Linked DNA regions of Homo sapiens. Each later gene encodes a partner of the first gene's protein in a complex. Each region holds a gene or a part of one and is shown on either strand. Other genes may lie near its edges. A codon is read from its position in the direction of its gene.

Region 1 (3,649 bases):
GATCTATTTTTTCCTCTACTGTAAGTAACCTCCAATTTTCAGAACTAAATCACAATGTCACAAATGTACTTGTATACAAAGTTTTTTCAGCATTTGGGATTGTTTTCTTAGTATAAATAAATGAAACTAGAATTATTGGGTGAATGGGCATGGATGATTAAGTCTCTTAACACATACTGGCAGACTGGGCTCTACAAATCTATACCTCTACTTGAAGAATATGAGTGTTCATTTCAATGTACCTCATTAGTGTTTTGTCTTCTTTTAAAAATATCTTTGTTAATTAAAAAGGTAAAAAATAGGAACGTAACATTCATTTATTTATTCTTTGGTTCCCCTGTGTCCATTCATCTATTGGGATCTGAATTTTTTTCTGATTTTTGTACTTCATATTTTAAACATATTAATCCATTACCATATTTGATTTTTCTCTTAAACAACTGATTTCATTTTCACAAAAGTACATCCAGTGAACTCTTTTATCACCTTTCAGAGTACAGCAGTGAGATCTGATAAATATTCTTGTTTTTGAGACGGAGTCTCGCTCTGTCCCCCAGGCTGGCCAGGCTGGAGTGCAGTGGCGCAATCTCAGCTCACTGCAACCTCCGCCTCCTGGGTTCAAGCGATTCTCCTGCCTCGGCCTCCCAAAGTGCTGGGATTACAGGCGTGAGCCACCGTGCCAGGCCATAAATACTTGTTTTTGTTTTCCTTTATAAATTCTAGATTATTTGGCTGGGCACGGTGGCTCATGCCTGTAATCCCAGCGCTTTGGGAGGCCGAGGCAGGTGGATCATAAGGTCAGGCGTTCGAGACCAGCCTGGCCAACATGGCGAAACCCAGTCTCTACTAAAAATACAAAAATTAGCTAGGCGTGGTGGCGGGTGCCTGTAATCCCAGCTACAAGGGAGGCTGAGGCAGGAGAATTGCTTGAACCCGGGAGGTGGAGGTTTCAATGAGCCAAGATTGCACCACTGCAGTCTAGCCTGGGCGACAGAGTGAGACTCCATCTCAAAAAAAAAAAAAAAAAAAAAAAATCTAGATTATTGTAACGCAACTGTGATTTCATCTGGGAATAATGTTGAAGGGTTGTACAATTTCAAATCAACACATTAAGACAACAACTACATCACTCAGTTCATTGATACAGAAACCTAAAGACAAGAGCTGGTAAAATATTTACCTATATTTTGTTCTTCAAGAACCTAACGTCTATGTTTACAGCATAGGCATTTGTCTAAAGGGCTGGTCTATTTCCTATTCTGCAATAGTATCTATCTTTTTCCATTCATGAATCTCAAGGTTGGAAGAGATGTTAATTGTGCTCTACTTTATGCTCTAAAAAAACATTCATACCAGTGTCCATCTTCTTTTTTTTTTTTGAGACAGAGTCTCGCTCTGTTGCCCAGGCTGGAGTGCAGTGGCACAATCTCTGCTCACTGAAACCTCTGCCTCCCGGGTTCACACCATTCTCCTGCCTCAGCCTCCCGAGTAGCTGGGACTACAGGCACCTGCCACCATGCCCAGCTAATTTTTTTGTATTTTTAGTAGAGACGGGGTTTCACCATGTTAGCCAGGATGGTCTCGATCTGCTGACCTTGTGATCTGCCCGCCTCGGCCTCCCAAAGTGCTGAGATTACAGGCATGAGCCACGGCACCAGGCCCAGTGTTCATCTTCTAACCTATGCTAGAGTAGCACAACTGACAGACTAGTCACTACACCAAGGAATACTTTTGCTTGAAAAATCCAACTCGTTTTCAGTTCTCAAGGTCCATTTCAGATTAAGAAGAATTGCTATCTCTTCTTAAAAGAAACATAAGTAATCTTTTCAAAAATAAATAACTCTAAAAAGACAAAAGACACGGTTGCTTTATCTTGATATCAAATACCCACTGTTACCTTTTGAAATAGTTAGTGCTGGAGACCACTGTGATCGTAGAATATCAAGACAAATGCTGCCATTACTGTTAATATTTGGATGATAAATTCTTGTTGTAAATGCAACCTACAGAAAGAAAGGAAACTTTCTGTAAACTAGTTTATTAGTATTATAGAAAGTACATTAAAAACTGCCACATTCCAATTAATTACCTTAGGTGGTTTGAAGGGGTAATCTGTTGGGAAATGAATTGTCAAGAAAAATACTCCACCCTGATAGGGACTGTCATTCTGTTGATAACAAGAAAAGTGGGATTAAAATGAGTAAATTACATAAACTGTTTATTCTGAAATTAATCTGAATACTTACTGGCCCCATTATTGTAGCTTGCCAATGGAACACTGAAAAATAACAAGAAAAAAGTCACCATGTAACAATATCTACATTGTATCTACGCCATAGTAACATATCATTCCCCTTCTAATCCAAATTCATTTATAAATAATATGATAATGAGTATGAGCAAGATGAGGAACATAAATTAACAGTCTAAAGAAACAAGAAAAATGACTAGAATGGCCTAGAACACTGATAAGGTGCTCAATGAAAAATATTTAGAGCCAGGTGTGGTGGCTCACACCTGTAATCCCAACACTTCCAGAAGCTGAGGTGAGAGGACTGCTTGAGCCTGAGAAGTGGAGGCTGCAATGAGCCATGACTGCGCCACTGCAAGACTCTCTCAAAAACAAAAACAAAAAAAACCGAAAGTATTTGGGCTAAAACTTCTTGAAACTTCATGTCAGGTAGACAAACTTCTTGACAAGGCTTACAGTTCTACTTTTAAACAGTTATTTCTTTACCTCACAGGGTAAATCATTTCTTCAAAACAATTACATATAATACACTTTTTTTTTTTTTTTTTTTTGAGACAGAGTCTCACTCTATCGCCCAGGCTGGAGTGCGCTGGCGCAATTTCGGCTCATTGCAACCCCCGCCTCCCGGGTTCAAGCAATTCTCCTGCCTCAGCCTCCCAAGTAGCTGGGACTACAGGCAAGTGCCACCACACCTGGCTAATTTTTGTATTTTTAGTAGAGACAAGGTTTTGCCACGTTTGGCCAGGTCTCAAACTCCTGACCTCAGATGATCCACCCACCTCAGCCTCCCAAAGCTGGAATTACAGGCATGACTCCTTTTATAATGCTGGTATACGGGGGACAAAACAGTAAAGTCAAGGTAGATAATACTCAAATTAAGAAAGACTGGTTTTAACAAGGAGAAAAAATTTCTAAAAACTCTTGTGTAGGTCTGTACATTACTGGCCCTCATTAAAGAAAGAAAAACATCTCTCCTAATGTAAAGGATAAGTTAAAGAGGAAAAAAGAGAAAAAAGGAGTAAAATTTAAGAAGAAAATATTAGCTGAAAGCCCAAGGTTGATTACAAGCTCCAGGGATACTTCTAATAAGTTATAAACTTGTTCAATAAATAAATATCTTCCAAATGCAGAAAATGATGCTTGTTCCATGTTCTCATGCTACTAAGTGCATCATGAGAGATCAAAAGCCAGAGTTTTTACTTATAATTAAGCTACTACTTAGCACACTTACCATTCATACTATGATCTGAGCAACCTAAGGGAAGTTGTCACTGGGGTTATATTTGAACAACCCAAACCAGGTAACTCTTGTCACAAGGTAGAAGAAACATGAAGACTAAGAAGCCATATAAAAATCCACCAGAATGTCAGTCCAAATCCTAAAGTTCCTTCCAACCT
Region 2 (3,649 bases), on another chromosome or scaffold:
CCCTCTAACATGAACATGAACATGATCCTCTCCCCAGCTCCTCTTTTTTGTTGAGAGAGTCTTGCTATGTTGCCCAAGCTGGAGTGCAGTGGCACGATCATAGTTTACTGCAGCCTTGATCTCCTGGGCTCAAGCGCTCTTCCTACTCAGCCTCTGGAGTATCTAGGACTACAGGCGTATACCACTATGCCCCAGCTAATTTTTTTGATTTTTAGTAGAGACAAGGTCTCTTCCCAGGTTGGTCTTGAACTCCTGAGCTCAAGCAATCCTCCCGCCTCGGGCTCCCAAAGTGCTGGGATTACAGGCATGAGCCACTGCGCCTGGCCTCCAAACCATTTTCTATGTGTATGTTAGAGTGATATCTTAAAGATACAATCCTGGGCTGGGCATGGTGGCTCATGCCTGTAATCCCAGCACTTTGGGAGTCCGAGGCGGGCAGATCGCCTGAGGTCAGGAGTTCAAGACCAGACTGGCCAACATGGTGAAACTGTGTCTCTACTGAAAATACAAAAGTTAGACAGGCGTGGTGTTGGGCCCCTGTAATCCCAGCTACTCGGGAGGCTGAGGCATGAAAATCGCTTAAACCCAGAAGGTGGAGGCTGCAGTGAGCTGAGATCGCACCACTGCACACCAGCCTGGGCAACAGAGTGCGACTCTGTCTCAAATAAAAATAAAAATAAAGATATAAGCCCGATCTTGGCACTCCAAAACTTACTCTCTTTCTCTGGCTTACTATTGCATTTAAGATAAAATCTAGAATCTTCTACATAACCTTCAAGACCTCACATGATCTGGGGAAGCTGATATAGTACCCAAGTTGAAAACTGCAACAGGCAAGGTGTGCTTGATAGAGACAAATACTGCAAAGTCCAGATCAATACAGGTGGAAATATGTCACTGGGTTTGATAATAAAGCTATTCATTAGTGGTCTGCAACAGAGTAGCAGAACTGGAGGACATATCATAGAGGATCACTGGAGTAATGGGAAGAAGGGAAAATGGAGGTGGTCAATGAAAGCATTTGTTTGACAAATTACGGGTGATGGTAGAAGTTCAGGGTTTTCTGCAGATGATATATGTACATATATGAAATTGGAGGCTGGGTGAGATGGCTCACGCCTGTAATCCCAGCACTTTGGAGGCCAAGGTGGGCAGATCACTTGAAGCCAGGAGTTTGAGAACAGCCTGGCCAACATAGCAAAACCCTCTCTCTACTAAAAAGACAAAAAATTAGCCAGACATTGTGGCACATGCCTGTAGTCCCAGCTACTCGGGAAGCTGAGGCATTAGAATCACTTGAACCTGAGAGGCGGAGCTTGCAGTGGGCCGAGATGGCGCCACTACACTGCAGCCTGGGCGACAGAGCAAGACTCTGTCTCAAAAAAAAAAAAAAAAAAAAAAATGGCACGGACCCAAAGAGTGAGTGGTAGCAAGGTTTCTTGTGAAGAGCAAAAGGACAAAGCTCCCACAACATGGAAGGGGACCCAAGCCGGTTGTCACTGCTAGCTGGGGTGGCCAGCTTTTATTCCCTTATCGTCCCCGCCCATGTTCCGTTTCTGTCCTATCAGAGTGCAGTTTTTCCAATCCTCCCTGCGATTGGCTACTTTCAGAATCCTGCTGATTGGTGCGTTTTACAGAGTGCTGATTGGTGCACTTTACAGAGCACTGATTGATGCGTTTTACAGAGCACTGATTGGTGCATTTTACAGAGCGCTAATTGGTGTGTTTTACAATCCTCTTGTAAGACAGGAAGGTTTCCCAAGTCCCCACTCTACCCGGGAAGTCCAGCTGGCCTCACATCTCACCAGCACTTTGGGAGGCCGAGGCAGGCGGGTAATGAGGTCAGGAGATTGAGACCATCCTGGCTAACATAGTGAAACCGTGTCTCTACTAAAAATACAAAAAATTAGCCAGGCGTGATGGCAGGTGCCTGTAGACCCAGCTACTCGAGAAGCTGCGGGCAGGAGAATCACTTGAACCTGGGAGGCGGAGGTTGCAGTAAGCCGAGATCGCACCACTGCACTCCAACCTGGGTGAAAGAGCGAGAACCTGTCTCAAAAAAAAAAAAAAAAAAAAAAAAAGGTGCGTACCATGGGGTCAGAAGCAGAGGTGAAATGATAACTTTCGCAGGGACTTAAGCTGGTAACCATGAAAATAGGTGGGGTCACATACATACCAGGGTGTCACACTCAGCGCAGTTCTTATACTCTGATTTCATTCTTTTGGCTACATCAGTTGCTGGAACTCCTTCTGAAGGAAGATATGCCCGGCAATAAGGACAGGTCCACTTGTTGTTCTTTAGACTGGTAGCAATACAGGAACGGCAGAATCTACCCCAAACAGACCAAAAATACATCACTTTCCTTGAAAGCTATAAGGAGCCACCACCATGTATTCATTTGTGTAAACTGTAATTTAATGACACCTCGTACCCCATGAGCCATACTACCAAATTACAGGTCCACTTGCACCCTGCACTTCCCGAGAATTGCTTACCTTCCCAGCAAGACTTCTTTAGAATCACACATTCTTACCACATGCACTTTCACACATTTCAAGAAAAGTAAGAATTCAAAGTGGGTGAAATAGCTTTCCTATAGGCTAAGTTTAAACGATACTTTAAAGAATGTCTAAATTGGATTTTACCTCAAATTTCTTGAGAAAATATGTCTTTCTTCTGTGGGGTTTTGTGTGTCACATAAGAAAATAGCAGGAAGTCAAGGAAGTAAAAATACCAGACACATTATAATTCCCTATAAAACCATTTTCTCCTTCCCTCCCTTCCTCCCTCCCCTCCCCTCTCCCCTCCCTCCCTCCCCTCTCCCCTCCCTCCTTCCCTCCCTCCCTTCTTCCTTCCTTCCTTTCCTTCCTTCCTTCCTTCCTTCCTTTCTGGTCAAGAAATATGTTCTCTGGTTTATTTAAAGGTGCTCATTATGAAATCTTAACATAATCAACATTTCCAGAAAATTCTGACCTATTTATAGGAGTTGTTGAAGACTCCATAAACATAGAAATAAAAATGAGCATTTGGGTAATTTATACACATGAGCATGACCTGATGCCTCTTAAACTACTCAGCACATAATATCTATTTGGGAGTATTAATACATGTCCAAAGGTAGGCTTTTTAAATTTTAAGTATACTGTACATACTGGAAAGTTCTTATAAGCATATAGTTGAATGAAATTTCAAAACTGAACACATCCATATAACCAGTACCTATAACAAAAACAGCGTGGCCAGCCCCTAAAATTTCCCCTCTTGTTTCCTTCTCTTTTTTTTTTTTTTTTGAGATGGAGTCTTGCTCTTGTCACCCAGGCTGGAGTGCAATGACACGATCTCAGCTCACTGCAGCCTCCACCTCCTGGGTTCAAGCAATTCTCCTGACTCAGCCTCCCAAGTAGCTGGGATTACTGGCACCCACCACCACGCCTGGCCAATTTTTTGTGTTTTTAGTAGAGACAGGGTTTCACCATGTTGGTCAGGCTGGTCTCGAACTCCTGACCTCAGGTGATCCACCTGCCTCAGCCTCCCAAAGTGCTGGGATTACAGGCGTGAGCCACTGTGCCCGGCCTCCAGACACAATTCTATCCCCTCCAAAGTAATCACTGACTTTTTAAAATGTATTTTAACATATGAAAATTATAC
Region 3 (2,955 bases), on another chromosome or scaffold:
CTGGGCTCAGCTCAGCTCTCCTCCTCTAGCTCAATAAACATCTGCCACACTACTCTGCTCTCTCATCTCCCTTCATCACTGGATTGGTACTTGAGTAAGACGGGCTGCAATCACAGGTGCCTACAGGGGTCAGTCAGGCAACCACATATACAAATGATGGGGCATAGCCTAAGATAAAGAGATGAGACACAAAACAGGAAACTAAATTCCTCTACCTAAAGGCATTCTATGTATATAAATAATGGACAGGCATGGGTGTGTACACAATGAGTTGTTAACGGTGGGTCCTAAGGACTCTGCTTACATGCTGACATCCCACTAGTTTTCCCTGAAACTCACTATACTAGCTGATGAGATGTCAGACCCTCTTTACCCAGCTCTTCGGAGAACAGACTTCAGAGCAAAGTTGGGGGCTGCTCTGCCACACCCCAATCTTATTAGGAATTGAGAAAAAGAGCCATTCCTCACAGGCTAGGCGCTGCTAAGCAAAGAAAGCCAAAGAAGGCCAAATATCTTTATTGCCTCCCTCCCATCCCCAATTCCCTGTTCCCCCCACCAAGTCCTGCTAGGAACCATCCTTAGATTCCAGGCCCAGGGACTCCCTCCGAGTACCAGGCCGGTATGCTCCCTGGCCCCGAGGCAGGCGAGGGTAGGAAGAACCGGGTGTCCGGCCTTTAGAGCGCTCCCAGCGAACACAGTCCCGAGTCCTGCGGGGTGGGGGCCCCTGCCAGCTGCCAGGCCCCTTCTCTTGTGGAGGACCTTCAACTCCTTGGCTATGGGGTTCTGGCTTTAGGTCCATGGGCTCCTTGAGGGGCCCCTCAGGAGGTGGCAGTTCCTGGGTGTCACGGGTACCTTTAGGGGCGTGGCACTCCCCTCCCTTTGGGTGCCTCCGTTCGGGCTGTCGCCAGGGACCTCGACTGGGCTTGGGGGGATCTAGCATAGCTTTCTGGGTTTCGCCCAACCTTTGCTGATTTGACCTGGTCCCTGGAATCTTCTCACATATGTGCTGGGTCGCCACAGGCAGAGGAGGTGGCAAAGTGGATTGGACGGCTGGTGAGGTGGATAGTTCTGCTGCAAGGGTGCTGGGTGGTTGGGATCCTTTGGAGACATCTACAGCTGACTCAGGTTCCGCAGGGGCAGGAGGCTAGAAATAAGTGACAAGATGCAGTGAGGGAGATGCAGTTCCTCAAGGTGGGGAACTACAGGCCCCTCTCCTACTATCTGGGCTGACCACGATCAGCCTATCATCTTCCTGGTTAGAACAAAGCTCACTCTGGGGCCATGGCTGATTGGGGTTTGTAGAAAGGTTGGTGGCATTACAGGACAACTGGGAAGCCCTTCCCTCACCTGCTGAAGGCTGATGAAGTATCGGTTTCGCTCAGCCTCAAGGTCAATGATTCCCCCCCGCTCCTGCTGCCTCTGGTAGAGCCGCTTGCGTTCTTCTTGCTGGCGCAAGCTCTCTGCACTGGGCTGGTACAGCTCCTGGAAGGAAGAATGGCAGAGAGGAAATAATGAACAGCAGAAGGCTGACTCAAACCTCTACTCCTCCCAGGCTGCCTCAGGAGATCTGCACTGGTTTTGCCCCTCAGGTCTGGGCTCCCAGAGTCTTAGGCTCCCGCCAGTGGGGGATGTGGCTTTGCAGAGAGGTCCTAGGCAGTTCAAGCCCAATTTCAGAGATCCCATTTGACACAGACAAGATGCCATTCCTTACTCTTTAGAAAATACCATTACTCCTGGCTCAGATTGGAAAAAAGTCTCCTTACCATGGGCTGTTGGGGTTCAGGGGCTGCTTTCAGTGAGGCAAGATCATACACGAGGGGCTCTCTGCACACTGGACACTGCACACCGACTGCCTTCTAAAAAAGAGAAAAATCATATGCCTGTGTCACAGCCCAGGATGCCCCCTGGTGCTGACCCATCAGCCAACCTAATCTGCAGAGGGCTGGGACTAAAGGGCACAGGGACACCGGTTCAGCAGTGAGTTGGGACAGAGCACGGGTTGTCTAACTAGAGATCTGGGAACCCCCCGAAACTGCATGCAATATGTAAGTGTATATAAGGATGCCCTGGCCAGGCACGGTGGCTCGCGCCTGTAATCCCAGCACTTTGGGAGGCCGAGGCGGGCGGGATCACTTGAGGTCATGAGTTTGAGACCAGCCTGGCCAACATGGTGAAACCCCGTCTCTACTGAAAATACAAAAATCAGCTGGGCGTGGTGGCTCGCACCTATAATCCCAGCTACTCGGGAGGCTGAGGCAGAAGGATTGCTTGAACCCAGGAGGCGGAGGTTGCAGTGAGCCAAGATTGTGCTACTGCACTCCAGCCTGGGTGGCAGAGTGAGACTCCATCTCAAAAAAAAAAAAAAAGGATGCCCTTTATTCTGGACAGAGGTAAGAGTTCATTAATCTCAAGGGTATCTATGACCCTGAAAAAGTGAAGAGCCACTGGAGTGGAGAGATGGAAAAGTTTGTGAAAGGCTGTGCCTAAGGGTGTCAGATGAGTGTGCAGGTGCAGTGAGGTCTACCTGTTTGGTTGTAGCATGCTGCCGTTCCTGTTCCTGCTCCTGTCCTTGTGCCTTCAGCTCTTGCTCCATGTGCTGGATGTACCGAGCAAGGCAGTGGCAGTGGAAGTAGTGGTAACAGGGTGTTTTGGTAAAGGCCTCCTTCTCCTAGAGGGAAGGCAGATGTAGGGCACTAAGTCAGAGCTCTCTCACAGCCCTCATCTGCTGGTCCCAAACAGAATGCCAGGTCCCAAGAGAGAAACCCACCTGGAAACCATAGAGGCAGATGACACACTGGCCATGAGGGATGTTGTTATCTGTGAGAATTTCCTTCCCTTTCTGAGGAGAGAAGACACTGATTAAACGGGGGTAGGGGGAAGAACGGTGAGCAAGGCCTGTCTACTACTCCTAGGAGTGACTGGCTAGACTTGGCTCCTAGCAGGCCAGTTTGTTAC

What was found.
Region 2: the proteins of UBE2D2 (region 1) and RNF125 are in contact, whole or in part, in a crystal structure (PDB 8GBQ), measured with the Homo sapiens proteins. Residues at the interface, in NP_003330.1 of Homo sapiens: Leu3, Lys4, Arg5, His7, Lys8, Glu9, Asn11, Pro61 (codon at 2,107), Phe62 (codon at 2,104), Lys63 (codon at 2,101), Ile88 (codon at 1,940), Gln92 (codon at 1,928), Ser94 (codon at 1,922), Pro95 (codon at 1,919), Ala96 (codon at 1,916), Leu97 (codon at 1,913), Thr98 (codon at 1,910); in NP_060301.2 of Homo sapiens: Ala38, Val39, Cys40, Leu41, Glu42, Cys60 (codon at 2,317), Thr63 (codon at 2,308), Ser64 (codon at 2,305), Asn67 (codon at 2,296), Pro73 (codon at 2,278), Tyr74 (codon at 2,275), Arg76 (codon at 2,269), Glu102 (codon at 2,191), Tyr122, Lys125, Tyr126.
Region 3: the proteins of UBE2D2 (region 1) and RNF25 are in contact, whole or in part, in a crystal structure (PDB 5D1K), measured with the Homo sapiens proteins. Residues at the interface, in NP_003330.1 of Homo sapiens: Leu3, Lys4, Arg5, His7, Lys8, Glu9, Leu10, Asn11, Asp12, Arg15, Ser22, Pro25, Gln34 (codon at 2,267), Thr36 (codon at 2,261), Val49 (codon at 2,143), Phe51 (codon at 2,137), Asp59 (codon at 2,113), Pro61 (codon at 2,107), Phe62 (codon at 2,104), Lys63 (codon at 2,101), Phe69 (codon at 1,997), Thr70 (codon at 1,994), Thr71 (codon at 1,991), Arg72 (codon at 1,988), Ser80 (codon at 1,964), Asn81 (codon at 1,961), Gly82 (codon at 1,958), Gln92 (codon at 1,928), Ser94 (codon at 1,922), Pro95 (codon at 1,919); in NP_071898.2 of Homo sapiens: Val136 (codon at 2,791), Ile137 (codon at 2,788), Cys138 (codon at 2,785), Leu139 (codon at 2,782), Tyr140 (codon at 2,779), Cys161 (codon at 2,617), Arg164 (codon at 2,608), Tyr165 (codon at 2,605), His168 (codon at 2,596), Pro199 (codon at 1,835), Val200 (codon at 1,832), Arg202 (codon at 1,826), Gln220 (codon at 1,772), Met222 (codon at 1,766), Glu223 (codon at 1,482), Leu224 (codon at 1,479), Tyr225 (codon at 1,476), Gln226 (codon at 1,473), Arg238 (codon at 1,437), Leu241 (codon at 1,428), Tyr242 (codon at 1,425), Arg244 (codon at 1,419), Gln245 (codon at 1,416), Arg248 (codon at 1,407), Gly249 (codon at 1,404), Gly250 (codon at 1,401), Ile251 (codon at 1,398), Ile252 (codon at 1,395), Leu254 (codon at 1,389).

The regions. Positions count from the first base shown.
Region 1 is NC_000005.10:139,613,215-139,616,863, reverse strand, and holds part of UBE2D2 (ubiquitin-conjugating enzyme E2 D2), read right to left. Parts: intron 2,279-3,649; coding exon 2,247-2,278; intron 2,168-2,246; coding exon 2,090-2,167; intron 2,004-2,089; coding exon 1,898-2,003; intron 1-1,897.
Region 2 is NC_000018.10:32,035,797-32,039,445, reverse strand, and holds part of RNF125 (E3 ubiquitin-protein ligase RNF125), read right to left. Parts: intron 2,331-3,649; coding exon 2,177-2,330; intron 1-2,176. UniProt on the Homo sapiens protein: E3 ubiquitin-protein ligase that mediates ubiquitination and subsequent proteasomal degradation of target proteins, such as RIGI, MAVS/IPS1, IFIH1/MDA5, JAK1 and p53/TP53.
Region 3 is NC_000002.12:218,663,392-218,666,346, forward strand, and holds the end of RNF25 (E3 ubiquitin-protein ligase RNF25), read right to left. Parts: intron 2,840-2,955; coding exon 2,768-2,839; intron 2,669-2,767; coding exon 2,525-2,668; intron 1,857-2,524; coding exon 1,764-1,856; intron 1,483-1,763; coding exon 1,348-1,482; intron 1,145-1,347; coding exon 566-1,144; 3' UTR 501-565; downstream 1-500. UniProt on the Homo sapiens protein: E3 ubiquitin-protein ligase that plays a key role in the RNF14-RNF25 translation quality control pathway, a pathway that takes place when a ribosome has stalled during translation, and which promotes ubiquitination and degradation of translation factors on stalled ribosomes.